Regions from separate parts of the Homo sapiens genome. Here regions 1 and 2 are each linked to region 3. Evidence: fine-mapped expression QTL. A gene starts in region 3. Each other region holds a variant in brackets. All regions are shown on one strand. Distances are between the middles of the regions. Region 1 holds the start of TRP-CGG1-1 (tRNA-Pro (anticodon CGG) 1-1). Region 2 has its middle 24 kb from the start of RCSD1. Region 3 holds the start of RCSD1 (RCSD domain containing 1).

Region 1 (9,991 bases), 80 kb before region 3:
GGGCGGAGGTTGCAGTGAGCCGAGATCACACCACTTCTCTCCAGCCTGGCGAAAGAGCGAAGCGAGACAACGTCTCAAAAAAAAAAAAAAAAAAAGAAAGAAAGGAAAAAGAATTTAAAATATAGTTAAGAAGCCATGCTTACTATATCTAATTAAAGATATTGGGACAATCGAACAGCAATCACACAATTGGTTGCCAATTCTACAGTAGAATTTCGTGTTGGTGTAGGTGTCTTGCGCTCTAAGAAGTTACAGTTGGAGGAGATAAGACTGAAACCCAGTTATTTACCACATACTATTGGTTTTGATATGTTAAAGGATCTTTTTCTGGGAAGGTTAGAGTTTGGGATTTGTCCAAAAGCAAACAGGTTTTCCAGCTGAAGAGAACACTTCGAGTAAAAACAGAGATGGGAATTCACAAGGCTAGATAGGTAGGGCTTTGAATATTACAATAAAAAATATCGGCAAGAAACCGAGATTTTAACATTATAGAAAAGTGCGAAAAAGAACGAATGAAACATCCAGAACTCACTCAGTAACGGAGAGAGTCTGGAATCTGCCACAGTGACATTGTCCCACACTAATAGCCATTTATTAGCCATGAATAGAAATACAATTACAATTTTCGAAATAAGAGGTCGATATTATACTGATAGTGACAATTTTGCTGTCTTCTGTGTTACTGATTTTCAAAGAGCAAAACAGAAAAGAAAGAAAATTGAAAACGCGGTATCTATAGAAAGCAAACACAACCCAAAGATCGAATCCTAACATGCGAGCAACCACTTGAGGGCGCAGGACTAAATAGCTATGTGTTCCTTTCTGATGACAGTAAGGTGGAGTTTGTGTCGGCTCGTTGGTCTAGGGGTATGATTCTCGCTTAGGGTGCGAGAGGTCCCGGGTTCAAATCCCGGACGAGCCCTGTTTTGGAGTAAGAATCACTTAAAGGTGAGTTTTTTTGGGGATAGATTACTAAACGTAATAAATACAGGTTGGTCAGAGTAAAACACAAAATTGAGATTTTTGGAAACTTAGAGCACACTCTACATTGAAATACCATTAAAAGGCCTCATTTTGAAAATGTAAAAAGTTTGCTAGTAATGTAGTATTGTACTATGAAAACATTGTCCCTAGCTGTCTATTCCTGGGTGCAGCGCGTGTACAGGGCCATCGGGAGCTCAGTTCTTGGCTGCCTATGGCGTGGTTTAAACTCATCCACGACAGTGCCCCTCATCGGGGGTGGGGATATCTCCTGAGCGCCCCTTTCCTCGGAAATGCTGATTCCCGAACCCCGGGACATGCTAATCCATGACGCCCCCTGCTCGTTTGGAGGAGTTAAAGGCGTGCACAGGATTCCGCACTAGGCGTCTGTTTTTCAAGAGTGTGTGTTTTACATGGTACAAAGCAATTTGAATGCGTTGCCTTTGGGCGTACAGTAACCATATGTTGTATTAATTGAGCTCACATGGTCCCTCGCTTCAAAAAACAAAGGGGATCAACATTCGAGCTCATGGGACCAGTATGTTTTCATTTAAGTTTCTGAATGGAATATGTGGGGAATTAGGGGGAAAAAATCTGTTTTTAAATTTCGGGTGTGGGGTGGGTAAAAGCCTGGGCTCGTCCGGGATTTGAACCCGGGACCTCTCGCACCCGAAGCGAGAATCATACCCCTAGACCAACGAGCCGCTCTCGGCAAGGGCACTCCCAGAGCTTCCCTTCAGCCTTGTTCCGCCTCTCACCTCGTGTTCCGAGCAACCACGACCTGCGACCCTTATACTGCGTGTCCTCTGATTCCCTAAGCCTCGGGTCCGGAGCGCTTACTGCCCCACAGCGTGGAGGAGCAGGGAGGGACCGGCTTTTGCCTGGTCCGGCCGTTCCAACCCCCCATCGCCGGCGTGGCCTCCACGTTCGCACGCGCTCCCGGAAGCCGCCTTCCGGCTTACGGGCTCGCCCCGGCTGTTCCACTCGCAGTGTTGGCGGGCGCCCGGGAGCCCGGGCTGAGGAAAGTGCGGGGCGGGGCAGGGCGCCTCAGGACGCAGCCCGGTGCCAAGTCCCGGCGGCGCCCCGCCCGCGCCCAGCCCGTCAGTGCACGCAGAGCTGGGCCTGCTCGCTCCGCGAGTGGGTCGGTGAATGAAGACGGGGAGTCCGAGCGAGGGAAGGGAATACCCGAATCCTGGCTAAGAAAGGGGTGGTGGGAGACGAAATCCCATAGGAGTGAATATTAAGTTAACTCCCCGAACCTTCATTTGGGGATAGTGCACTCTTTTAAGCCCTTTGCTTGTATTGAACTCACCTGATATTCGTAATAATCCCCTAGGTGCCATTGTATCTCCATTTGCAGATGAGGAAACTGAGGCTCAGAGATGTTAAGTCGCTCACATAAATCCACTGGGCTAGGAGCTGGCGGTGGCGCTGGTCTAGGAACTCCCGAGGTCCTGGAGGGTGGGACAACTGGGGGCTGGGGCGTGTGAAAGGGACTGGAGAGTTGGGGAGAAGATTGGTACCTCGGTAGCTTGGAGAAGAGAGGGCAGTGGCAGTGGGCCGGGTCTTCTCCCTCCCGTCCAGCAGAAAATGTGGGCCTGCCCTACTGCTCTTCTGCTCAGAGGAGCGGGAGTCCGAGTGCGGGGTCTCCCGCCGGTGTGGTTTCCCGGCCTGGGGTCTAGCTCGTCTTGCCTGCTTTCCGGACTGCTCTCACCGCTTCCCCCCACTTCACGACCCCAGCCCGCCACTCTGCACTCCGGCTCCTTGCAGTCTGTGGCCAAGTTGCAGACGTCCCTTATTTCTAAAACACTCTTGCATTCTTAGGCTACTTTCAGTTCAGCGTAAGAGAAATCCATTGCTCTGTAGCCTGGTCAGACGTTCTTCCAGGTCCTGGTGGTGCTTTTGCCCTGTCACCTGCTAACCGAGAGCTTCCCACGTGCACCCGCTTCTCTGCTCTTTTCTCTCTCTCTTCCTCTCTTCCTTTTAATGTCAGTGAGCTTTTGGGACGACACTTAGCGATAGGAGGTCAGGACCAGGGTTCATGCCGGTGGGGAGTGTAACGGGAAATGCAGTGAAGACACCTCAGAACAAACAGCGAGCACTGAAAAACCTTTCTTTAGCCCACTCTGGCGATGTAGAGAGCCCTGTCGCTGGCTGGTGCAGGGGCCAGGTCTAAGGTGGGCAGCCCTGTCTACGCCTTCTATTTGTTTGGAAGTGCGTAAAACTATTGACACCCTGTCCTTGTCTGAGACCACTTTTCTTCCTCCTACTTACCTAAGGTGTGAGAACTGGATATTGTTTAATTTCTTTTCTTTTCTTTTTTATTTTGAGACGAAGTGTCGCTCTTGTTGCCCAGGCTGGAGTGCAATGGCGCGATCTCGGCTCACCGCAACCTCTGCCTCCCAGGTTGAAGTGATTCTTCTGCCTCAGCCTCCCGAGTAGCTGGGATTACAGGCATGCACCACCACGCCTGGCTAATTTTGTATTTTTAGTAGAGACGGGTTTCTCCATGTTGGTCAGGCTGGTCTCGAACTCCCGATCTCAGGTGATCCGCCTTTCTCGGCCTCCCAAAGTGTTGGGTTGAGCCACCGCGCCCGGCTAGATATTGCTTTTAACACACTGTTTGGTAGTTTGAGGATGGGTCAAGGGTGGGGAAGGTTGGGGAGAGAGTTTTCATTAGGGCAAGTCCTGAGCAGCTAAGCGTCGCCCTCCTTCCCTTTGAGAGTATGCGTGCCTTCGCTGGGGCTCTCTCTGCCTTGCCTGAGCTGTATCCCACTCCTGGGAGCTTTGACATATTCCTGCCACTCACCATGTGTGTGGAACATGATAGAGGTGGACACTTCTATCTTTGCTGAGTATACACTCTCAAGGGTTTTTTGTTTGTTTTTGTTCGTTGTTGTTTTAATTTCCCAAGCCTGGGGAGAGGGATAAAAAATAAAAATAAGTTCCCAAGTCTGCTTTTCCACTCCGTTAAGTAGTTTGTAATGGCTTCATAGTATCCCATCAAGATAATGGCACATCCTTTTCTTAATTATTCTTCCACTGTATAAGTAAGTGGTGTCAAACATTTTGTTGAAATTTTGTGTATATACTTTTTTTTTTTTTTTTTTTTGAGACAGGGTCTCACTCTGTCACTCAGGCTGGAGTGCAGTGGTGCCATCATGGCTCACTGCAGCCTCAACCTCCTGGGCTCAAGTGATCCTCCTACCTCAGCCTCCCAGGTAGCTGGGACAGGCATGTGCCACCTACACCCAGCTAGTTCACCCACACCTGGCTAATATTTTTGTATTTTTTTGTAGAGATGGAGTTTCACTATGTTGCCCAGGCTGGTCTCCCAACTCCTGGGCTCAAGTGATCTGTCCACTTCGGCCTCCAAAGTGCTGGGATTACAGGCGTGAGCCATTGCACCCTGCCCCTTTCCATGTACTTTGGATTATTTCCTTAGGACACACTCCCAGAGTTGGCCTGGTCACAGAGACAAACACTGATCCTTGGCCACTTTTATAACTCTTGATGCAATTCTGTGCTAAGGAGCTTGGCTTGGCTGGTTAACAAGTAAGATGGAAACGTGGAAGAAGAGGAACAGTGGCTCT[C/T]AGATAACTTTAAAGCCCATGATTTGATCTTTTAATTTCATTTAAGGGTTTTGATGGCATCAAAGCTTTTGAGAATGCTGATAATAAGTATTGTTGATGATAACAATTTTGACTTGGGGTCAGATGCATAAAAGGGAGTAAAAGAAATTAGAAAACTAGTAAATCCATTAGGAGATGATTAGAATAACTCTGGGATGACATTATTGAAACTGTGAATGGGCATTTAAATCACTTGTAATGGGGATTCAGTGACTATTTAATAACTAAGATTTGCTGGCTACTGAATTCTTACCCAATTTAGGCTTAGGTGGTGCAGACTTGGCTCTGTCTAGCAAGATCAGTCCTTAGGAATAAGAATACAATTAATTACATGGGTTCACCACTCCAAGGAACCTTCTCGCTAACTTGGCACACAAGACTGGCCTCATGCTCATATGCTGAGCCTTGTTTGCTGCTTGTGGGGTTATGTACTAATGGACTAGAAGGCCATGGCAGTTGTCTTGGTAGGCTTGTGTCACGCACAGCAAGCCTTCCTCCAATTTAAACAGAAACTTGGATCTGACTGAAAATTTGTGTCTTTTTCCAGATTCTAGTCCAATATCCAGCAAAAGCTTCAGCTACATTTTACTAAACATATTTCTATTTGGTTTCCCTCAGTGATCCTTTTTATGAGGTTTAGATCATGTGTCCCTCTGAATTTTGCAGTCCCTTCATTGAATCACTATTAATGAATTCTTGGAATTGCCTCAGCCTCTTCATTTTTCATTCAAAAGGTTTTGCTTGTTTTTAAGTTCTGAGAGTACATGAGGTCAGAGGGGTAATATGAATCTCAGATGTAGATTGTGAAAGAACTGCTCTCCGCTGGGACACCTTCACTTTCACCAAGGAGTCTTATTACCTGTTCATCTTATTACCCTCTGTTTTATACAGACCTAGTTCTGGTCAGATGTTTCTGGTTAACACAAAAGTGTATCATTTTCATGATCAAACTTGTGATTCTTTATGAAGACATGCTCATGAGAGTATGTTACAAAAAAGAAAGAGAAAATTAGATATAGTAAAATCCCAATTTTGCACCAACCAAGAATTAAAACAAAACGTATATAATGCACTAAAAAAAAAGAAGAATATCCATAAAATAGTAACATTAGTTATCCCTAGATAGTGGACTTAAAAATACTTTTTTGTTTGCTTCTTAAAATTTTTTCTTCCCCTCCACCAATTTTCTAAAATAAAGATGCATTGCTTTTACAATGAGAAAAAAATTAGGATAATTAACGTTTTTAAGCCACAAAGAAAACAGGGGTCTTGAAACTGCATTTCTTTGTTCTTGGTAGAATGGAGACACAGAATTAGAAGCAATGTAAAACAGGCCCTTTTGTGCTTCTCCATCCCTTCTGCTTCCAGAGGTGGTCAATAAGCCTGTTTGTATCACTCCTGAGAGGCCAGGTGCAACTGTGATGGGGATGTGCCTGGCACCGTCTAGCATGTGTGGCTTCCTTAGATAGTCAAACAGCAGTGACTAGTATTGGAGGTCCTATTGTTTGAAGAGGCTATTATTTTCTTGGGGGGGAATGAGTATCTGTGTCTTGGCAATATCCATCCTTTGAGTACCAATCATATAATTATTCTAGAATTTTGTTTCTGCATGCTGGTTAAAGTGCAATTCAGTCCACTCATTCTTTAAAACAGAAGCACCTGGTAAGTGTGGTAACTGACTTAGGGGTTTACCCAAGTTAGAGTAACTTTCTCTAATTTCTTTCTTTTCTTTTTTTTTTTTTTTAGAGACACAGTCTCACTCTGTCGCCCAGGCTGGAGTGCAATGGCACAATCTCGGCTCACTGCAACCTCCGCCTCCTAGGTTCAAGCGATTCTCCTGCCTCAGCCCCCGGAGTAGCTGGGATTACAGGTGTGCGGCACCCTGCTCAGCTAATTTTTGTATTTTTAGTAGAGACGGGGTTTCACCGTGTTGGCCAGGCTGGTCTCGAACTCCTGACCTCAGGTGATCCACCCACCTTGGCCTCCCAAAGTGCTGGGATTACAGGTGTGAGCCACTGCACCTGGCCACTTTCTTAAATTTCTATGTAAAACTACATCATGAAGGACTAGAGTCATATTACTTGCAGGAGTACTTGGGGGCGGGAATCCTAGCCTTTTTTTTTTTTTTTTTTTTATTGAGACCGAGTCTCACTCTGTCACCCAGGCTGGAGTACAGTGGCGTGATCTCAGCTCACTGCTGCCTCCACCTCCCGGGTTCAAGCGATTCTCCTGCCTCAGCCTCCCCAGTAGCTGGGATTACAGGCACACCAACAGACTCAGCTAATTTTTGTATTTGTAATAGAGACGGGACTTCACCATCTTGGCTGGTCTTGAACTCCTAGCCTCAAGCTATCCACCTGCTTTGGCCTCCCAAAGTGCTAGGATTACAGGCATGAGCCACCGCGCCTGCCCAGAATCCTAGCCTTTTCTGACCTCTTCCTTCGGCATCCTGCTTCCCTCATAGTGTCTTCCTGGCTGCTCCAGGCGGAGGGTGTTCAGCTCCCATGGAGAAGCCCCACAGCTTTTCAGGATTAGGGGGATGTGTAAGACATCTCTTAGTTCCTGTTTTGGATGTGGGTGGTTTTACTGTTGGCTTCCTTTACCCTCTGAGGCATGTAATACATTCATCATCTCTTCCTCCTCTGAGGAGTCTCAAAGAACCAGTTTCCTGCCCCATTTGACCACAGTGGGACTTTGCTGGAATTCCCACAGCTCTCCTGGGATTTGCGGGCAAAACTGGAATAATGGTCTCTTGTCAGCATCCATAGCCACTGTGATCAGGACATCCAGCACAGGGCTCATGGGGAGCCTGGGTTACCCCAACAAAACTGGGAAGGCAGAAAAGTGTGTCTCCTGACCCTAGAATTTTGTGCACTTTGCTCCTCTTTTGTAACCCCCTCTGGGAAGGGTCTCAAGAAACTTCTCACACCAAGGTGTAAATGACAAAGGAGGCTCCAAATAATGATCTCTCTCAGAAGTATTTGCATATTGAAGGAAGCCAATGATGACATTTCAGGTGTCTGCTGTCAGATAAAAGAGGTGTTAAGCAGGGATGACTGTTGAAAATAATCCCATCTCAGCTCTGAAATCAATTCAGTCATTCATGATTTAACAAATATTTATTGAATACCTACTATGTCTGAGGCACTGTGTACAATGAAGAATAATACAAACACATTGTACTCCCCTAGAGCTACAGGTTAGCTCTGGGCACAGTAATACATTATTACATAAAATAATGAGACTGATTTTCTTGGGTGGCTTATGAAACCTAATCCCATTTTATGTGAGCATTTGGATTTTGTTCAGTGCTCTTGACATCTTCATAAACCACCTGATCATGCATTATATAGAGACATTGTTTATCCTTTTTTCACGTGGTCCATCGAGCAAAAACTTGACTAGAACTAGTTGGGGTCAAACAAAATTTAATTTTGAAGCAAACAATGGGATAGTAATTGGGTGTTTCAGGTTTTGCCCTATGGGAAACAGCTGTTGTTTTTTGCCTGCCAGCATAGCTTCTTTTGGTAACAGCACCCTGATTTCACTTTGGGGAATCTTCTTGCTCACCTTTGCAAGCCTTGTAGAGAAAGTGCAGGATTGACTCACCTAGCTCCTAGCTCCAGGAGAGGGCACGCAGTCTCTGCATCTGCTTGGTTGTAACAGTTGATTCAGGTATAGACACGTGAGTCACACAGGGCCTATGGAAAGCCTCTACAGGACTTTTTCCCCACAGTAATGGTGAAAGAATAAGCCCTTTCACTGGGTTTGCAGGCTGGGAAGAACCTACTTAAGAAAATGACTGGCTGGACGTGGTGGTTCATGCCTGTAATCCCACTTTGGGAGACCGAGGCAGGCAGATCACTAGAGGCCAGGAGTTTGAGACCAGCCTGGCCAACATAGTGAAACCTGGTCTCTACTAAAAAATACAAAAATTAGCTGGGCATGGTGGTGCATACTTGTAATCCGAGCTATTAGGTTGGTGCAAAAGTAACTGCAGTACTTGGGAGGCTGAGGCACGAGAATCGCTTGAATGCAGGAGGCAGAGGTTGCAGTGAACTGTGATTGTGCCACTGCACTCCAGCCTGAGTGACAGCGCGAGACTCTGTCTCATTCAAAAAAAAAGAAGAGAAAAGAAGAGAAAAAAGAGACAGCCTTGGCTGCAACTATTAAGGAAAACTAATTAAATAAGTTTTTAAAAAAGAAAAAAAAAAGAATATGGCCAATACGAGGGAAAGCAGAGACCAATACCATGAGAGATTCCTGACATCACTTGGGTGACTGTATTTAGGTTTGTTTTTTTCAGTTCTATGAGGCTGAAAAAGGGGGAGAGATTCATTGATCTGTATAGTTCTGTTTTTCATCAGCTAGTTTGAGTTGGGTTTCTGTCACCAGCAGCTGGGTGAACTTGTTCATTCAGCTGTACTAAACACATCCCTAATCAAGAAAACCTAATCATAAGATGATGAACTGGTTGCCTTTTCACGCATTTATTTCTTTGACATTTATTTATTGAACATGTAGTTAACTGGTCATAGGACAAAACCTGCATGAAAAACTGGGCATTGTTCAGGGTGATCTCCGTGAGGGGCCTGGAGTTCTGAGGCCACTGAAGCTTACCTAGTTCCACATGCAGCTGAAACAGAATCCTAATCCCCTTTTAAATAGTGGCAGATCCCTTCAAAGCATCCAGGTTTTTTTTCTTGCTCCCTCTCTGGAGTAAGGAAGGACACAGTTTGAAATTCAAGCTAGACTACAAAGATCGTGGAAGAATGACTATGACTATTTCTTTAACTCTGTTGCTGTAGAAGAATCCGTGTTTTCTTTCAAACCCATTATGGAAGCCTGAAAGAAACAAGGTCTTCCTGGCCTGTTAATAACTTTGTGCTACCTAAGACACAGATGAATTTCTTTAATCCCAAATTTAGAAGTTCCAGTATCAACCATGCAAATAAAACACCTGATCATGGTTGCTTTGAGAAAGGAGAGTTTTAAGCAGTGGGGCTGCAGCACCAACAAAAATCAGTCCCTGTACTTCATGAGTTCCCTGCCAAGAGCCCCCTTTATTAATGAACAAGCCCTGGGAATGGGGCCTCTATTTTTTTCACAAAATACACCAAATAATGTGACTAACAGGAGACTTGGGGGATAGAAAGGTATTCTGATGCCCACAAGCATGGTGCCGCAATGTCACATTCTTGTCATTTTTACTGCCCCTCTCTCGTCTGCTACTATGTTTAGACCCTCCAGAAGAAAAATGCAGTTTCATTTTTCATATCTAAACCCCATACTTTCTGTTCCATGCCTTCCTCAAGTAAAGTGGCCCTTTTCATCACACATTCACAATCATGCACATATTCACAAAGTACTTGCCCAGA
Region 2 (9,991 bases), 24 kb after region 3:
TAAAGAGACTTAAGAGAAGTATCAGCAAAATGCAATGTGTGTACCTTCATTGGGTCCTGATTCAAACACACCAATAATTTTGAGACAATTGGGAAAATTTGAACACAGATGGTATTAGATGATGTCAAGAAATCCATGTTACTTTTCCTAGGTGTGAATGTGATATAGTGATTGTGTTAAAAATAAAAGATTTTATCTGCCAGAGATACATACTGAAGTACCATGGCTAAAGTTACATGAGGTGTGAGATTTTCTTTAAAATCTTCCAGGGGTGAAAAATCGTTAAAGAGATAGATGAGGCAGAATTGGGAATGCATTGATAGTTGTTGAAACTGGGTGCACGCATGTGGGAATTCATAGCACTATTCTCTCTGGACTTGTATACCCTCATAAATTTCCAAAATAACAACAAAAATAATAACAACAACAAGAACAAAAACAGTGAGTAGACTCAGGGTGATCGGATACCCAGGATAGGCTCTTGGTGATGGAGAGAGAAAGGTCACTGAAAACTTTGAGATCAGTAAATACATCTTTATCTACTTTAAAGGTTTGCTTAAGGGCAGCATTCTTCATATGGCTGTTGGAAAAGTTTAGTTTATTCATTTCCTGAAAAATTTGTGACTCTGCTCCATGAACCAGGAATTTCAAACTTAGGCATGCTCCCAAGAGAAATAGGTAGATATACCTATCAAAAGACACATACAAGCCTATCATATTGGTACAAATCAGTTTTATCCATGATAGTACAAAACTACGAACAATCCAAATGTCCAAGAACAGATCAACAAATTGTGGAATATTAATGCAATAAAATATTACCACACTCGGCAATAAAAAGAAACAAAATACTGACACACGTGACAGAGGTGAATTTCAAAAACATAATGCTGAGCAGAAGACAGACACAGAAGAGTATGTGCTATGACGCTCAAGAATAGGCACAACTAATTCAGGGTGATAGATGTTAGAATAATAGCTACCCCTGAGCTGGGATATTGACTGGGAAGGTGCATGAGGGACCCTTCTGAGGTGATGGAAATGTTTTACATCTTGGTCCAGGTGCTGGTGTATACAAATGCAAGAACTCATTAAGCAGGACATTTAAGATCAGTGCCCTTGTGCACTCTATGCTATTTGTATTATAACTCAAAAATAGTAATCATAATGAATAAACAATAAAAAAGGAAAAGAAAAAAAACCTGGAAATGTTTTGAATTTCCAAAAGAAATCTAATGGTAGAAAAATTTAAGACAATATTTTTAGGGTCTAAAGAAAATTGAGTTCCTGACTCAGAAAGCTAAAGTCTTATGCTAGGAAAATGTTGTCTGGAATGTTCTATAATCCAGGGGTCAGGGAAAGGGTTCCAGTTCTATTCCAGACTTCTATCCTGCCTTTTCCCTTTTGCAAAATGCATCAGCCCTGTTTAGTCAGCTCTTTGCCCCAGTAGCAATGAAAGAATCCAGTCTTTTTTTATATTTTGTTTTTTTTTCTGAAAACATTCATGAGAAAATCCTAATAATCACCAGTTCAACACATTAAGCCAAAGGAAGTTGTCATGTACAGAATAATGAGCATGCAGCCTGCAAAGAAGAAATGGTTTGTTTCCCAGGACCTCTTCCTGGGGTACAAGGTCTGAGGCAGAAGGGGATATGGGGTAGGATGAGGTGGGGTAGGGTGGTGGAGTTCAGTAAATGGTACTAGGCTGGTCTTCCTACTAAAAGACTTGGGTTCTAAATATAGCTATTTCTTGAATGTGTTTGGGGGCAAATCATGCCAACTTCTCTTGTCATCAGTTCTTCCTATAAAAATTCAGGGTGATGAAATTGCAGGGATATCGTGAGGATTAAATCAGATCATGTGCACACAGTCGCACAATCAACAGAGACTTAAATAGAAAAGAAGTAGGAGGAACCAACATTTTCCAGTTTTTTCTTTTCATCTTTGTACTAGTTCCTTTTCTTTTCCTCTTACCTCCTGGTGCCTCAAAGGACCTCAGGCCCTCCTGCTATGGTCAATACCGCACTCTGGCACCTCACCTCAAGTACTCCACTACAAACCTGAGATAGAGTCTTAGATGTAGCCAGTGCTCTTAGCCTGGGGCAGAGATGCGACAGCAGTGAGAGCTAAGGTGCTGAGGAGGTGTCACTGAGGACTGAGCACTGGGGTTAATAACGAAGACCCAAGTCAGATTTTTCAAGGCTGTGAAGCTATCAGGAGCAAACTGGAGGATACACAAAGGGGTGCACTGTACAGAGGGAAAAGCAAAGTCCATTGTGGCGGGGATGACAGAGAGGAACAGGGGCTGGAATTGGACATGCAAAGGAATTTGGACTTTGTCAGTAGGAGAAAGGGCAACATCTTAAGAGCTGTTTTGCAGGGGTCAGATTTACATTTTAGGAAGATGATTCCGACAGCAGAAGGAATCAGAGGCAATTTTGCAGACAGGAAAACAAGTCAGGAGAGTTGAAGACCTAAGCTGGAGAGGAAAAAAGAGGGTTGAAAGACACTACAAGTTTGATTTTCCAGGGATTAAGTACATATTAGGATGTGGGAGTAAGTAGGAGGAGCCGAGATTAACTTAAACTTTCAGAGTAAGGCTGTCAGGTTTATCAAATAAAAATACAAGCCATCCGGTTAAATTTGAACATCAAACTATTGATAAGTAATTTTTAGTATAAATATCTCCCATGTGTATTAGTCTGTTCTCACATTGCTATAAAGAAATAACTGAGACTGAGTAATTTATAAGGAAAAGAGGTTTAATTGGCTCACAGTTCTGCAGGCTGTATAGGAAGCATAATGACATCTGCTTCTGGGGAGTCCTTGGGGAGCTTTTACTTATGGTGGAAAGCAAAACAGGAGCAGGTGTCTTACATGGCAGGAACAGGACTGACAGACAGGAGGAGGTGCCATGGACTTTTAAACAACCAGATTTTGTGAGAACTCCATCACTCTCATGACAATAGCACTGAGGGGATAGTGCTAAATCATTCGTGAGAACTCTGCCCTCATGATCCAATCACCTCCCATCAGGCCCCACCTCCAACACTGGGAATTACAATTTAACATAAGATTTGGGTGGGGATCCAAACCATATCATTCCACCCTTGGCCCCTCCAAATTTCATGTCCTTCTCATGTTGCAAAAGTACAATCGTGACATCCCAATAATCCCCCAAATCTTAACTCATTTTGGCATTAACTCAAAAGTCCAGAGCCTGTAAAATCAAAATCAAGTTAGTTACTCCCAAGATACAATGGAGGCATAGGGATTGGGTAAAAACCCCCTTTCCAAAAGGGAGAAATCAGCCAAAAGGAAGGGACTACAGGCCCCATGCAAGTCTGAAACCCAACAGGACAGTCTAAATCTTACAGCTCCAAAACAATCTCCTTTGCTTCCATGTCTCACATCCAGGGCACACTAGTATGAGGGGTAGGCTCCCAAAGCCTTGAGCAGCTCCACCCAGTGGCTTTCCAGGATTCAGCCCCCTCAAGAGCTGGCATTGAGTGTCTGCAGCTTTTCCAGGTGCAGGGTGCAAGCTGTTGGTGGATCTACAATTTTGGGATCTGGAAGATGGTAACCCCCTTCTCATAGCTCCTTTAGGCAGTGCTCCAGGGGGGACTCTGTATGGAAGTTCCAACCCCACATTTCCTCTTTGGACTTCCCTAGTAAAGGTTCTTCATGAGGGCCCCACACTTCTGTAGCACACTTCTGCTTGGACGTCCAGGCTTTTCATTCTCTGAAATTTAGGTGGAGGCTCCCAAGCTTCAACTCTTGCACTCTGCACATTAGCCGGCTTAACACAATGTGTAAGCTGCCAAGGTTCATGGTTTGTACCCTCTGAAGCAGTGTCCTGAGTTGTACCTGGGCCTCTTTGGGCCACAACTGGAGCCAGAGTGGCTTAGGATGCAGGGAGGAGTGTCCCCAGGCTGCAAAGGGCAGGGGGGCCCTAGGCCTGGCCCATGAAACTACTCTTCCCTCCTAGGCCTCCAGGCCTCTGATGAGAGGAGTGCCACAAAGGTTCAGCCTTTTCCCCATTATCTTGGCTATCAGCACTTGCTTTCCTTTTAGTTATGCAAATTTCTGTAGTTGGCTTGAGTTGCTCCCCTGAAAATGGGCTTTTCTTTTCTCCCACATGGCCAGCCTTCAAATTTTCCAAGCTTTTATGCTCTGCTTCCCTTTTAAATATAAGTTACAGTTTCAGATCATTTCTTTGCTCATCATATGAGCATAGGTTACTAGAAGCAGCCAGGTCACATCTTGAATGCTTTACTGCTTAGAAATTTCTTTCACCAGGTACCCTAAAATCATCATTCTCAAGTTCAAAGTTCCACAGATACTTAGGGCAGGGGCATAATGCCTATGAGTTCTTTGCTAATGCATGACAAAAGTGACCTTTGCTCCAGTTCCCAGTAAGTTCCCCATCTCCATCTGAGACCTCCTCAGCCTGGCCTTCATTGTTCATATCACCATCAGCGTTTTGGTCACAATTCAAGCAGTCTCTAGGAAGTTCCAAATTTTCCCCCATCTTCCAATCTTCTGAGCCCTCCATACTCCTCCAACCTCTGCCTGCTACCCAATTCCAAAGTCACTTCCATTTTCAGGTATTCTTATAGCAATGCCCTACTTCTCAGTACCAATTTTCTGTATTAGTTCATTCTGGTATTGCTGTAAATAAATACCTGAGACTGGGTCATTTATAAGGAAAAGAGGTTTAATTTGCTCACAGTTCCACAGGCTGTCCAGGAAGCATAACAGCATCTGCTTCTGGGGACGCCTCAGGGAGCTTTTACTCATGGCAAAAGGCAAAGCCAGAGCAGACATCTTACATGGCAGGAACAGGACCAAGGGCAGTGGCTGGTGCCAAACACATGTAAGCAACAAGATCTTGTGAGAACTCAATCACTAGCATGAGGACAGCACCAAGTGGATGGCGCTAAACCATTCATGAAAACCCTGACCCCATGATCCAATCACCTCCTATCAGGCCCCACTTTCTTTCTTTCTTTTTTTTTTTTTGAGACGGAGTCTTGCTCTGTCACCCAGGCTGGAGTGCAGTGTCGATCTCGGCTCACTGCAAGCTCCACCTCCTGGGTTCACACCATTCTCCTGCCTCAGCCTCCCAAGTAGCTGGGACTACAGGCACCTGCCACCATGCCTGGCTAATTTTTTTTTTTTTTTTTTTTTGTATCTTTAGTAGAGACAGGGTTTCACCGTGTTGGCCAGGATGGTCTCGATCTCCTGACCTTGCCTCAGCCTTCCAAAGTGCTGGGATTACAGGC[G/A]TGAGCCACCGCGCCCGGCCAGGCCCCACTTTCAACACTGGGGATTACAATTCAACATGAGATTTGAGTGGGGACAGATTCAAACCATATCACCATGCAATAATCAATCTGAAGTTCAAATTGAATTGGGTATTCTGTATTTTATCTGGCAACTCTATTTCAGAATCACCTCTCTAAAATGCAAATCTGATCTGTTTAATCTATTGCTATCTTAATGTGACTTCACAGGTAAATAATCTTCCTCAAAAGAGACTGTATTTATCAGCTGGAAGGAGTATTTGGGTCAATTGAAAAATCATATTTCTCATTTTTGACCAGAGAATCAGCATAGTGAAGAGCATTTTCCCAGCACCATTTTTTTTTTGGTGTCATGGGCCATCCATACCATGACTTTTTTCAGTAAGTTTGAGATCTATATTAAATTAATTTACTTTTTAAATTTTGCATTACACTAAGTAATGATATCCATGAAATCACCACTCCAATGAGCTACTGATTTTTTATACCTATTACAATAAACACAGGGCTACAATAAATTTTTATTCCTATGTTATCTAAAACTTGCACGTACACTCTGGGAAATACCAATAGAGGAAGGAGAGCTGTGCTGGCGCTGGTCTGATCTGACTCATACTCTACCATCCCGGAGCCTCAATCACTGTCTGGTTGGAGAGGAGAAGGCCCTGGTGTGCTGGCAAACCCTGAACTTGACTGGATTAGATTAGGATGAGAGGGACAGGACAGTCAGGCTTCTGATAAGGATGGAAAAGTGGGAATTGGAGTTCAGCCTCCAGGAATCCTGCAGGCCCCCTGGTAGTGGAGCCATATATGTATTTGGGGTCCCACTACCAGAGAGGAGATACATGGGGACCGGTGAGGGCCAAGAACGTGGCCAGAGGTTGTGGTTGAGGAGTTTAGGACCCCAGATGAAAAACTCCTGTCTCCAGGGGCTGAAAGCAGATACTTAAGAATTCTTCTTGTGGGATTTGGACACAGACTGTGATCTACCTGCCTGCACAATGTCTCATTGTTCCTGACTTGTTAAGAAAGCTTCTCCTGATACTTGGTAGCAGTTCAGGTTGATGTCAGCCCCTGGGCTGTCCAGCAGAAAGATTTTCCCAGGTTTCTCAGTGGAGACTGGAGCCACCAGAACTGTGACACCCTGAACTTGAACCAACCAGCCAGTCTTGTCAGGTACCTCTGACCCGAAAGGTCATGCCAAGAGCCCAGAGGCTCTGATCATGATCTCAGCACTTCATCCACATAAAGGAGCCCACTGTTGTGTTTCCCAAATGCTGCAAGGCTCTTTTGCTCCGGGTTTCACTGATCCGCCCCTCCTTTTAAAAAGACTCTTGGATTCTGCCAACATTACTCTAGGCCTCCACTCTCTGCTCACCAAAGCCTAAGCCCTGTGGCCTTAGGGCCGATAAGTCCTTGGATACATTTCCCAGTGTGTTTTTCCTTGGTGGGCCGGTGAGACAAGAGACGATGGGGGTCTTTACTGTACTCATGTGACACATGGCTGTTCTGCATGCGGCAAGGCAGAGGGGCTGGGAAGGAGGGAGAGTATGAAGTGTCTGTTTTGTGCCAAGCATTGAGCTAAGCCAATTGTCACAATAATCCTGGAGGCAGATACCATCATCTTCAGTTTATAGATGAGGAAAGCTAAGCTCAGAGAGATTAAATAACTGTGAACGGCAGAAAAAACCGAGCCGGAATTAGACTTCAGATCTTCTGACCTTAAGTCTGGTGCTCTTTGAGTCATGCCACCTGAAATCAATTTGAGAGAAAGGGCAATTGTTGGCTCAATTTTGATGAAATAAGAATTTGAGGGGACACCCTCTGTGTGCCTAAGGATGAGGCCCAACACAGGGAACAGAATTCAGGAGACTCTGCAAGGGCAGAACATACTGGTAACATGTCCTGCAGGCTTTAACTCCTATTCTTTTTTCATGATTGTTCCACAGTCTTCTTTCCTAAGGACTATTATCAGATCCATATACCCATGTTAGTTAGAGTAAATGTTAGGCTTCTGTAACAAATAAACCCAAAATATAATGGCTTAAACTTAAGTTTATCTCTCTCACATAAAATTCCAGGTGAGTGGTTCAGAGCTGGTACACCACAAAATGTCTTGCTCAGCTCCTATCATCACATCTTGCATCCCTACCATCAAGATGGAGGAGAACATGCAACTTCTTTTTAAGAGTCTGGCCTTGAGGATTGCACATATCACCTCTACTTATATCTCATGTTGTCCCAAACAATGACATGAACAATTGTAGCTGCAAGGGAAGTTGGGAAATAGAGTCTTTATCTGAGTTTCCATGTACACAGTAAAAAAACTTCTGTTGCTATAGAAAAGAGAAAAAAATTGGGGAGAACATAGAGGAGCCACTACTATAATAATTTTGGAACACTCTTACATGAATTGATAGGCCATTTATGTTTTCTTTAAGAAGTCTGGGCCAGGCGTGGTGGCTCATACCTGTAATCCCAGCACTTTGGGAGGCCAAGGCAGGCGGATCACCTGAGGTCAGGAGTTCAAGACCAGCCTGGCCAACATGGTGAAACCTTGTCTCTACTAAAACTACAAAAATTAGCCGGGCATGATGGCAGGTGCCTGTAATCCCAGCTACTTGGGAGGCTGAGATGGGAGAATTGCTTGAACCCGGGAGGCGGAGCTTGCAGTGAGCTGAGATTGTACCACTGCACTAAAGCCTGGGCGACAGAGCGAGACTTCATCTCAAAAAAAAAAAAAAAAAAAAAAAAGTCTGGATTATGTGGCTTAGAGCCACAACTCTGCTACTTAGATGTGATCTTGGCAAGTTGTGTAACTTCTCTGAATCTCAGATTTTTCCTCTGTACAATGAAGTGATGAAATTAGCCTACCTACCAAGCTCGGATATTGGAAGGCCCAAATAAACTCATGTCTTTGAATGCTGCATGTAAGCTGCAAGGTCCCATGAAAAGTGAAGTGCTACAGCATTGGGCCACCCAGAGGGGGGTTTTTGTTTTTGTTTGTGTGTTTGTTAAGCATTTGGTGCTGGTTCCTCAGCTTGGTTTAGGGTGAAAACCACATATCCAAGTCTTCTGTATGGTATTTCCACTCTCAAGGGAATACTTTAGCACATCCTATTCACTTCTACTGGTTAGCCTGCCTCTCTCCCCAGAGCCCTGCCACTCTTGTGGGCTCCCATCCTTCCCTTGGGTGCAAGTCACTGCCAACCCACCCCGACTGGCCACTTCTGATCCCTAATCACAAGTGGGTAATAAAGGCCCCGAAACTTACTCCTCCCGGAGTGGATTTGGGTGGAGGGCCCCGAAACAGGCCCTGCAGGAAGGAGCCCAGGAAACGGCCCCCGGCAATGCTAATCTGAGCGTTTTTCCCCAAGCATATGCAACAAACCTCAAAAGGCCACCTCGGCATGCTTTCACACCCCTAGTTGAGATTGTATGACAGTCAGCAGTGTGTGTTAGTTACAGCAGGACCAGTTGTTATCTATTAGCCTCTAAGCTCCTTAAGGAAAGAAGGAAATAAACCTTTTCTCAGCATCTATTATGCCTTAGGCTCATAAACAATGTGCCAGCATTTATTCCTCACCCAACCTCACTGCCAGGAGGAATTATGACCTCCTTCTTGGTAGATGAGGAGTAAGAGGTTGAAAGAGTACCTTGTTCAGTACCAGACAGTCATCAAGTGAAGGTGGCAAGATTTGAATCCAGGATCTGATGCCAAGTCTGGCTCCCTCCTATGACACCGTGATTAATCTGTACTGTAGTTGAGTGTGAAAAGGTGGAAACTATGTGTTCAGCCATTGTACCTTCCCTTGAGCACTAACACGATTTCATGCCAGCAGGGCCTCAAAAGGATTAAAGAGAATGGCATTTTTCACCATTTTATCTCTGACAGTGCACAGCACAGTTCCTGATACGTGAAACAGGTCATTATGATATTTATTGGACATACCGAAATTGTTGGACTGATATTTTTTAAAAAATCATAGCTGTATTTATTCATTCCAAGAGCTGAAGGTGAAAGTGCCTTGCAAAGCCTTCCTGGGAGTAAGGTTGTCAGGCAGATAAAACAAGCTAGTGAAATCAGGGAAAAGATTTCCTGGACACAACTGTTCATGCCAGGCTTCCTGGCGGAACCACAGCAGGAGTTAACCAAGGGTCTACTGTGGTTATTGCCTGAGCCACACTCACAGCCATGAATCTGTGGCAAAAGCAGATGGCACTTCCGGCAGACATCCCCCAGAGGAGAGAATTTTCCATGAGGCCTGTGTATGGCAGCCAGCCATCCTGGGTTTCCTGGCATGGTCCAATTTCCCATCTTTTGTCTCAAAGTCCTTAGAAGGACATATGTATGGGGTGGGTAAAGTCCTGCTCTTAGTTATTTAATTTATTTATTTTTACAGGCAGCCTCTCAAACCAGAGTAGGCTCAGAGAGACTCCTGAGTCCTGCTTTTGAATTTGGAAAATATGGTTATAGCAGGCACGTGGAAAGTGCCTTTTATTGCCTCCCACCTGCAGATCAAAGGCAGAGGGGCCGGCCTGCCCAGGTCAGCCTGTTTCACCCGGGAAAGGGAGGGCCATCTGCTCCAGTCAGGAAGCCCTGGGGAGCCTTCTAATAGAGGAAGCCCACCAGGGCCAGAGCAGGGCTGTGTCCTAAGAATTCAACAGTCCCCGAAAAGTCCAAGAAA
Region 3 (9,616 bases):
AATTGCAAGCTGTTGGCTTTCCAAAAGTCCAATAGTGCCTAAATCCTCAAGATACCTCTTGGTGAGTTGGTTTATCCCTTTACCATATGGCAGAGGGCAGTTAAAGATTGTTTTATTTCACCCAGAGCTCTGAGATTTTTAGATTCTAATGAGTTGAATAGGGTTGGTCAGGCTGGCTCCACAGACTTAAATATTATTACTGGAGAAAAGCGGAGCTGCCTTCAGATTTCTCTGGAACCAAAATGCTTTCTCTTGCGGCCCTGATAAGATTACCGGGCTGCTGAGCCGCCAGTGTTCAGATTTCCCACGGAACCGCGCGCGCCAAGCTCTGGCTCGCAGTGCTGTGAGGAGCCACGCTGCGGATCAGGCTCTGAAACCCGACTCCTTTCCAGGAATGCACATTCACCCCCTCCTGTGATAGGGCCTGGGCTGGGCCCTTAGAGTCTCACTCCCCAAATTCCCCCTGTCGTCGCAGTCCAACAAATGGAAGATGTCTGCTGAGTGGGGGCCAGTGTGAGGGTGAGGGTCCCACAGAACACGCGGGAGCCAGAGAGGAATGTGGGGTATTTGGGCATGCCACAAGTCCACCGAGCCAAACTCTAGCTTCAGAGGCTGTGCAATTCCTAATTACGGCCCATCAGCTCCAACCAGCAGCCAACATATGGCTCAGTGAGAGGGTGGGTGGGTCAAAAAACAGCGAGGCTGTGGGTGTTTCTCCTAGTGTTTCACGGTGAAATATCAAAATAATCTTTTTAAGATTTGGATTCGTTACATGTTTCTCTTCTATCTCCTAGTCCCATAATTTTAAAAAATGTGGTAGAAAATGTTTACTGAAGTAAAAAGATATGGATGAAAAAGTAGGTCACAAAACAAACACATTATATACACCAATATGTACACACACACACACACACACACACACACACTCTCATCATAGTAATACTGACAGTCTGTGAGAATGTAAAGACATGAGAGCTCCATAATTTTTAAGTAACATTTAAAATACAAGATCTGGTATGTAATAAGGGCCCAATAAATACTGAGTAGGTCCATGAATGACAAATAATATCTGGGAATGATTTGCAGTTACCCCAGAGAAAAGGATTCATTTATTGTCTCCACCTAAGTTAGAAATTTATGACTTTTTTTCAGTGCCATGATGTGCCTACAATTTAGTTGAACAAACAAAGGATTTAGTCAGCGAAAATTATACTTTTTTTCAAGTGCCCTCAGGCTATTGGCAGTGCACACAATTTATATTTAAGTGACTAACAGTATTAACTTAAATGTGACATCATACGCCTCCAGCTCCTTCTTTACACACCTCTGTCCTCTGGGTTCCTATCCACAATAGCATTACCTATTATCTCTTCTAGAGGAGAATCACATTTGTATCATAACAGGTTTGTATTTCTTAGGGAGTGGTGGACATTCTGCTTAGAACAATCAAAACCAACATATCTAAACACTGCTTGTTAAAAAAAAAAACCCTGATCTTCCTTCCCTCTTCAATATTTGCTCATGCAACAAGCCTTTCTTGGTGCCCATTAGGCTCTAAATATATAAGACATGGCCCCTGCCCTCAAGGAGCCTTCCGGGGTGACAGTTAGGGAGGCTGACAGTTCCAGTTCTGCCTAGTGTTCTAATAGTGGCTTGAACAAAGTGCTCTGAGAGTGCTGTAGAGTCTGGGGGCTTCACAGAAGCCTTCCAGAGGTGGAGACGTTTGAGCTACAGACCGAGAGGGGAAGGAGTTCCCTATTTATGCTAATCATTTATCAAGCAAACTTTTATTGAGAAATTATATGACTATATGCCAGGCACCGTGCTCATTCTGGAGACTCAAAGACCAATGAGAAAATCTGCCTGCAAAAGGCTTTGTATGGAGCTGTAAAAGTTGGTACTGCCATTTTCCCTGGCACCATAGAGAACTTCACTCTTCTGGGCAGCTTGGTGATTTCTGACTTCCCTTCCAGCGCATGGTCTTTACTCTTTTCCATCTTCTCCATTCTTATTGTATCCTGAAGTCAGAATATACCTGTACTGGAAAAGATGCTTTCTCACCTGGTTCCCTTGCTCACTCCATGAAGTGGCATTTTTGCTGTATCATCCCGGCTACATCACTGCTGCCAGCTGCCTCAACACCTCTCAGAGTTTCCTACTGTCCATGGAGCAGAATCCAGGGCCATACAACTCTGGCCTTCAAGAGTTGCAGATGGCCTCTGCATGAATTAGAAAAAGCCACCCGTTTGAGGCTCAACTAGGCAAGGAGATTTTGTATGAACAAAAAGTAACCTTTTCCTCCAAGTGACTTGGATTTCAGCTCCCACTCACCCACTTAGCTGGGCATCTACTATACTCAGTGACCTTGGATTTATCTTATTACTTTCATTTTTTTCTGTTACTGCTTTCCTACCTTCCTTCCCAGCCAGCTGGACAAAGCTGGCATGTTCTCCCTGTGCCCATCCCTTATACCTTCTCCACCTTACCCACATCTTTCTTCCAAGGCTTCTTCTGAACCTAATCTAGTCTGAACTCCTGCAGAACTCATGATCTGCAGCAGTATTCAACTGGCATTTATGCATTTGAAGATTATATATGTGACAGGATATAGTCCCTTTATTGGGTTGTGAGCTTTTAAAAGGCAGGGATCAGATGGCATCTATACTTTGTTTATTCCACAGGGCTTTATGAGGGATGAAGATTGATGTTGTTGATAATGGTAACAGTGACTTTAAAAAAAGATCTCTCAAAGACTTCCAATAATACGTGAGCTTTAGAGAATGAATATTGAGTAACCCTCTTTGGTCTGGTTTGGATTCCTAGTACTGAGAAGTAATATAACTTAATTTCTTTCCAGATACAGTAGCCCTTTCATGTCCCAAAACTGAGTTTCACCTCTCAAAAGAGGGTTTTACTCTGAGATTTTCAGAAACCCCCAAATCCAACTCCTGCATATCATGCTTCACCATGAAAAGTTTACTTCCTGGCTAAGAATGGTCACTTCCCTGGCCCCTAGATTTCCTCTTTACTTTCTTCACTAGCAGTTGCATGTTGTTTTTTTGTTTGTTTGTTTCATTTTTGTTGTTTTTTGTTTTCCAGGCATTTGGACAAAGAAACTTCAAAAGCAGCCACTGTCCAACCAGCAAATTGATGGACTAGGCTTAGTGACCTACTGGATGTGAGACGCAGGGTGATTTGTCAGGCTTCTGGCTGGCTGAGCTATTCCCTCCCTGCGTCCCTCCCAAACCCTAGCACGGGAGTGATTTTGGTATCTTGGTGGAATCCTGCATAAGTTACTACACATCTCAATAAGGGAGGGCCTTCTCTTTTACTGCAATCCCCTCCACCCCCCAAGCCACACAGGAAGTTGCTCAGCTGATAGTTTCAGGGCCTCTGCCATACACTATTCCTTCCTCATCTGAGGGGGGAGAAACTGCCTCTGTGGAAGGAGACCCTCCTTGTTTTCCTAGAACAAAGTTGACACTTGCATTTGGCCCTCCAGCAGCAACCTGCTTGAAGTCTAAGAGTTGCTTTTCTCTTATCTCCAATCCTTTTCTTCAAGAGGTTAGACAGGCCATACATCATAGTGAATCTGCAGCCTGGGGCCTAAGGCAGTTTGTACACTTCCAGAAGAGGGAAGCCACTTCTAAAACAATTTCTTAAGGAGACTTCACCCAACCCAAGAAGCTGGGTGTTGCCTGGGCCATTTCCCTCCTCTGCCCTGAAGCAGTGGCCAGCTCAGAGAGAACCCTGTTGTTTTGTGTTTGTGTGATCTTTGGGTGGATGTGTGCACACCACCTGCTGAGCTTCGCTGTGTGCGTGCCTCACCGCCAGCCCTAATCTGCCAGAGCTTCCTGGCCTTGCAAATGTTTCTGTGGAGGGTCCATATTAGACTCCAGTGGTTCTTGCAGTCTATAAAGTCTCCTTGAAGGTGATTCCCTGTTCCTTGAAGACAACTGGCTGGGCTGGATGCCTGAATATAGCTCCCTGACTTCTCTAAAGGACAAACTTATTGCCCCTTTAGAGAAGTCATGAAGCTTTGCCGGCAAGCACAGAGTCTAGCTTAGAAAACACAACCAGGGCCAGGAGTGGTGTGGCTCATGCCTGCAAATCCAGCACTTTGGGAGGCCAAGGCTTAGAGGATCACTTGAGCCCAGGAGTTCAAGACCAGCATGGGTAATATAGTGAGAACTTGTCTCTACAAAAAATTTTAAAACTAGCCAGGCATGGTGGTACACACTGGTAGTCCCAGCCACTTGGGAGGCTGAGGTGGGAGGATCCTTTGAGCCTGGGAGGCAGAGGTTGCAGTGAGCTGAGATTGTGCCACTGCACTCCAGCCTGGGTAACAGAATGAGACCCTGTCTCAAAAGAAAAAAATAAAAAGACCACCAGGGCCCAGGCACAGAGCCTGGAGCGGGGAAGAGATAGCGGAGTTAACTGTGAATCCTGATTGCACTGACCACAGTCTAGTGAGCAACACATGTTTCCTTTTGAATATGAGTGGGAATCACCTTTAAAACTATATAACATTTGCATCTTCTCAAAAGCCCCAGGTCCTACTAAGATTGACTTAGGGCTACATATCAGGTCTCATTTTCAAGGAGGAAACACAGGGAAGCCTCAAGATGTGCAGAAGAGAGGGATGTGGGGAATACACCCAACCACTCCTCTGCTGAGGTTGGAACAGAACAAGGAAAGTCCCCGGACCTCCTCTCAGCAGGCAGAGAAGTGCGGGGCCTCCCTCTGGCAAAGCCTGCAGATGTGGCCAGCATACCTCCATACACACAGCTTCAGAGGCAAGGGTGTCCAAGGGAGTCTTAAGTTTTATCAGAAATAATGTCATTCGACTGACCAGTAAGGGGAGCTTTCAGAAAGTTATGGAAGAAGATGCGACAGACACAGGAAGGACTTCAGAAGCAAGAAGACAACTGGACTCTCTAAAATGCCACTCCGAAAGCGAAAAGGGAAGCCCACAGACCCACGAAGACGTGCTGGCCTCGTGTTGCCAGTTCTGTTTCTCTTTCAATACCCATCTCTTCAGATTGAAGGGCTTCTGCCTTCTTGCAGTTTTTGCTGACACGTTTACCCATTTACAAACCTTGGCTGCACCTAACTTTTTTTTTTTTTTTTTTTTTTTTTTTTTTTTAGCATTTAAGTTCCTAGCCAAAATACCCGGGCCTCTAGGAAAGCCCTTTTCTCTCCCTCTGAGATCTTTCCTTACCAACCCCAGCCTCCCAACCCGGGTGTCCTAGGTGGGACCAGGGACGATCCTTCGGAGTTGGTCAAGGAGGCGTCGGAACAGCAGGCATTTGCCCTTCTAGTTGGCAGCAGCGATGAGCCGCGTGCTCCATGCTCAGGGCAGGGGCAGCCGCCCGGGGAAGGGGCGCCCGATACACCGCTCACCGCTCAGCCCCGCGTCTCCCTCCGGGGTCCTTTACCTCCATGTCCTTCAGGTGCCGACTCTGCGGCAGACGCACCCGCTCGCCCGGGCCGGAGCTCACGATCCCCGCTGTCCCCTCCGCTCCCGGCCGTGGCCAGTTTCGGGCTGCGGCGGGCACAGGGCGAGTGGGCGGTGGCGCGCGCCCGGCTGCGCTCGGCTGCGGGACTGCCCCGGCCGCGGGGGCCCTGCGCGAGAGAACGAGGAAGGAGGAGGAGGGAGGGAGGGAGGAAGGGGAGGGGAGGGGAGGGTGGGGAGCGGGGAGGGAGGCCGACGATCAGGGTTTAAATTTAGACGCAAATCTAAACAGATACTGTCCCTCCCAGGGCAGGACTCAAGAGCGGGAGCCACGACTCCATGTGCCCAAACATGGGGATGGGCAGCCACCGGGCCCCTCTGTCTCGCGAAGTTTCTCAGGACCCTGGGCTTTGCCACGGTCTCAGTCCTTCTCAACGTCTCCCTCCCTTAATGCGCCTTCTTTCTTTTTCCTGTCCCTTCAAGAATTAGAGTGGTCCTTTAATTCTTTTTGTTTCCTCTCTTTTCGATTTCCTTCTTTTGTGTCCATCCTTCCTGCTTTCCTTCTTCCTCTCCCTCTTTTTAAAATTGCATTACTGTCATACCTGGTTTCCCTGCAGTTCTTGGGTGGAGTTCGAGGACCCTCCCTGGTGGAAGGCGTTTGTGTTCTACCAAAAGAGGAGCCCTTCTGACCGAGGCTTCAGAGCTCAGCGTGGCGCCGACGGGACCACCTTTCCCTTCTCACCTCTTTTCCTCTCCACCTTCCAGGAAACCACTATCTATCCATCTATCCATCTATCTTCTGTATACGAGTAGAAGGAGGAGGAGGAGGAGGAAAATCAGGAATCCACGCAAAGTTTTCCAAGCTCCCTGAAGTGGTAAATCTTTTCTTCAAACCTTGCTTTGACTGATGCATTCGGTTTTGTGGGAATTTTGGCTCCCACAAGCTGCTTGCTAAAGGGCCTCGTCTCCATTCCTGTTAAATATAGCAAAGGGCAAGATGCTCAACATCTGATTCCCATAGGGCCCAGCATAGCAACCTTCCTTTAGGGCCATCCCGGCTGGGCAGCAGAGACCGCATGGGAGGGATTCGGGGACTGGAATCTGCACCAGGGTCACTCCCTGCTACCCGGATCCCGGCCCCCTTCAGACCCTTCGGCAGAGAGAAACAGGAAAATGCCTTGAGAGACCTGTGAGTGCCAGGGTATTGGCTGGGTATATGACGCCTCTGGGTTATCCCACAGCATTCTCACCCGCCCAACCCCAGCTCAACCAGGGGAGGGGAGCCCCATCAGAGGTGGGCAATGGGACAGGTGATGGTGAGCACTGTGAAGAGACATGTGGAGAAACAGTAGAGAAAAAAGGCTGAGAGTCTGCTCCTGCTACAAAGACTACCCTGATTCTGGTTATCCCGGCACCATCTTTGCACTTTCAGGCACTTAGATTGCTGCTTTGGGTACCAGTCTTAGAAATATGGCCTCCTTCCTGTCCTAGAACTTTCTAAGGCCCAACTTTCTAAAACACTGGCAGCCCTAATGCCAGAGTGGCTTCTAGTTCTTTAGCTTAGCTAAGCATAGAGGAAGACGCCTGGTTTTAGGAACAGACAGATTGAGGGCTGAATTCCAGCTCTGCTACTTTCTAGTTGTATTTTTTAGACAAGTCACTTAACTGCTCTGATTCTCATTTTCCTCACCTATACAATGTAGTAGGCACTCTGCAAAAAGTGGCTGTTTTTATCATGCTTAGCCCCATGTACAAGCTTCAGATGAATAAGAGCCTGATATTTCTTTTATTTAGAGACAGGCACTCGGGGACCCAGTGAAAAGAGCCCTCACTCCCAGGAATTAATAGTGAGGCCCCTCCCAGTCCAGCCACATGGCTGCTCAGGTGAAGACTCGAGAGCAGAGTCGGCAGTAAGGAAGGGTATTTACTGGTAACCTGCAAGGCACACTTTTGCTCGTGCTTCTTTCCTTTCTTTTTAAAGGTGCAGGACGTAGTGATGACTGCATAGTCTACTATCAGGTCTTCTAACTCTGCTCCACAGGGCCTTTTCCTTTCTCCCTCTACCTAGTCCTCCTTTGTGCTCAGAATGGGGCTGCCCCAGCACAGGTTTCTGGCTTCACAAACAGGAGGGCGGAAGTGCTTACCCAGAGGAAACCGTTAGGCCTAGATAACATCAGTCACCCAAGGTGACTTGCAGCTGCTCCCCACGCCCTGCTTAGGCCTCTCTTGGCTGAGAACAGATGACCACAAAGCAAACAAGCTTGGCCTCCACCATGCTCCTGGGTCCCCAGTGCAGAGTTTAATGCTGCTCCAGAGCTATTTGGGCCCCAGACTGGGACTTCTCCTGAGGGAGGGGGTGGAAAACGGGGAGGGAGGGACCAAGAGGTAGCCCCGAGCTGTGTTTAGGCAGCCATGAGTAGGTGTGGTGTGTGTACTCCCCTTATCTTCTTCTTCTGTCCCTACAGAAGATCTCCAGGAGCCAGAATAGCAGTAACTCTGCTGATAAACACCCAGGTTTGCTGGGTTATCTGGGATTGTAACTGGCTGCTCTGGGGGCTGGGAGGAAACAACAGCCCAAGGGGAAGGGAAAGTGACTTTCCGAGGAGTTGGTTCCCCTCTCTCTCTGGAGGTCTGGCTGGCTAACACGGAACCACTTCCTTCAGTCTACCCTGGGCCTTCCCCTTCATATATCCTGATAGCCAGAACCAGCCACGCAATAAGTAGAGGTCATCAGGTAACTAACAATAAAAACACCAGGCTGGGCTCATGCCTGTAATCCCAGAACTTTGGGAGGTGAGGCAGGTGGATCACAAGGTCAGGAGTTAGGGACCAGCCTGGCCAACATAGTGAAACCCCATCTCTACTAAAAAAATACAAAAATTAGCTGGGCATGGTGGCGTGTGCCTGTAATCTCAGCTACGCGGGAGGCTGAGGCAGAAGAATTGCTTGAACCTGGGGGGCAGAGGTTGCAGTGAGCCAAATTCTTGCCACTGCACTCCAGCCTGGGTGACAGAGCCAAGACTCCGACAAAAAAAAAAAAAAAGGCCAGGTGCAGTAGCTCACGCCTATAATCCCAGCACTTTGGGAGGCCGAGGCAGGCGGATCACGAGGTCAGGAGTTTGAGACCAGCCTGGCCAACATGGCAAAACCCCGTCTCTACTAAAAATACAAAAATTAGCTGGGCGTGGTGGCATGTGCCTGTAATCCCAGCTACTTAGGAGGCTCAGGCAAGTGAATTGCTTGAACCCACAAGGCAGAGGTTGCAGTGAGCCGAGATCGTGCAGCTGCACTCCAGCCTGGGCAACAGAGTGAGACTCCATCTAAAAAAAAAAAAAAAAACAAAAAATAAAAAAACAAGAACACCAGAGATACAGCTCAGCCAAGGGAGGGGCGTATGGGGAGGTATGGGGAGGAGCCAGGCATATAGAAGGCCCTCAATAAATATTTAGTGAATGAGGCCAGGTGGTAGCTCACACCTGTAATCCCAGTGCTTTGGGAGGTGGAGGATGGTTTGAGCCCAGGAGTTCAAGGCTGCAGTGAGCACTCTATCCTTGGCAACAGAACAAGACCTTGTCTCTAAAAAAATAAAGTAAAATAAAAATAATTTGGCGAATATGTGCGTGAATGAATGAACAAGTGAAGCAAATTAGGATCTTTCCCTTTAAGTCAGAGACAGAGTCTTTCAGAGATGGGTCTCCCATGGAAATAAGGACCCAGTGGGAGAAAAGATCATGAAAGGCCACAATAAGTAGTAACTTAATTAGCTTTCAAGCAGAATTGCAAAGAGGTCTAATCAATCAGCTGTTTATAGTGGACACACTGTACTGCTGATCATCTATTTTAAAAATGAAGAGCAAGAAGCAAATATTCTTTTACGACTACAAATACTACCTACTATGGTATAGGTAAATGCATATATAGGTAAAAATTACCTCATATGGTATTACATGAAATATCATCTATATAATATAGTTATATTAATATAATATATAAATATATACAATATAAATATATAAAATAATATAAACATAATATATATAACATTTTACATAATACCATTCATTCCTAAATTCTGGGAATCTGGCAAAACAAAATATAATGAAACACACACACACACACACACAAATCCCAATTCATTTTGCCGTAACTGTCATTGAGGAA

The links. PIP is the estimated chance that this variant, and not a neighbour inherited with it, causes the effect.
Region 1: its variant is fine-mapped to the expression of RCSD1 in whole blood (INTERVAL, PIP 0.91).
Region 2: its variant is fine-mapped to the expression of RCSD1 in lymphoblastoid cells (GEUVADIS, PIP 0.95).

Annotation. Positions count from the first base shown.
Region 1 is chr1:167,706,419-167,716,409 of GRCh38, reverse strand. RCSD1 (RCSD domain containing 1) reads right to left here. Exons shown (of 7, transcript NM_052862.4): 7 at 7,714-9,991. TRP-CGG1-1 (tRNA-Pro (anticodon CGG) 1-1) reads right to left here and starts at 1,685; the gene lies at 1,614-1,685. TRP-AGG2-1 (tRNA-Pro (anticodon AGG) 2-1) reads left to right here and starts at 851; the gene lies at 851-922. RefSeq lists silencers at 1,565-1,664, 1,965-2,204 and enhancers at 2,675-2,834, 2,329-3,167, 9,063-9,262. The variant C/T (reference allele first, on the strand shown) is at 4,575.
Region 2 is chr1:167,601,711-167,611,701 of GRCh38, reverse strand. No RefSeq gene overlaps it. Among named protein-coding and RNA genes, the nearest start is that of RCSD1, 24 kb to the left of the region's middle. RefSeq lists an enhancer at 9,936-9,991. The variant G/A (reference allele first, on the strand shown) is at 5,286.
Region 3 is chr1:167,626,252-167,635,867 of GRCh38, reverse strand. RCSD1 (RCSD domain containing 1) reads right to left here and starts at 5,636. Exons shown (of 7, transcript NM_052862.4): 1 at 5,439-5,636. The coding sequence starts at 5,444. RefSeq lists enhancers at 1-438, 4,850-4,919, 7,438-7,487, 7,498-7,667, 7,748-7,807 and 1 more and silencers at 5,460-5,679, 5,700-5,779.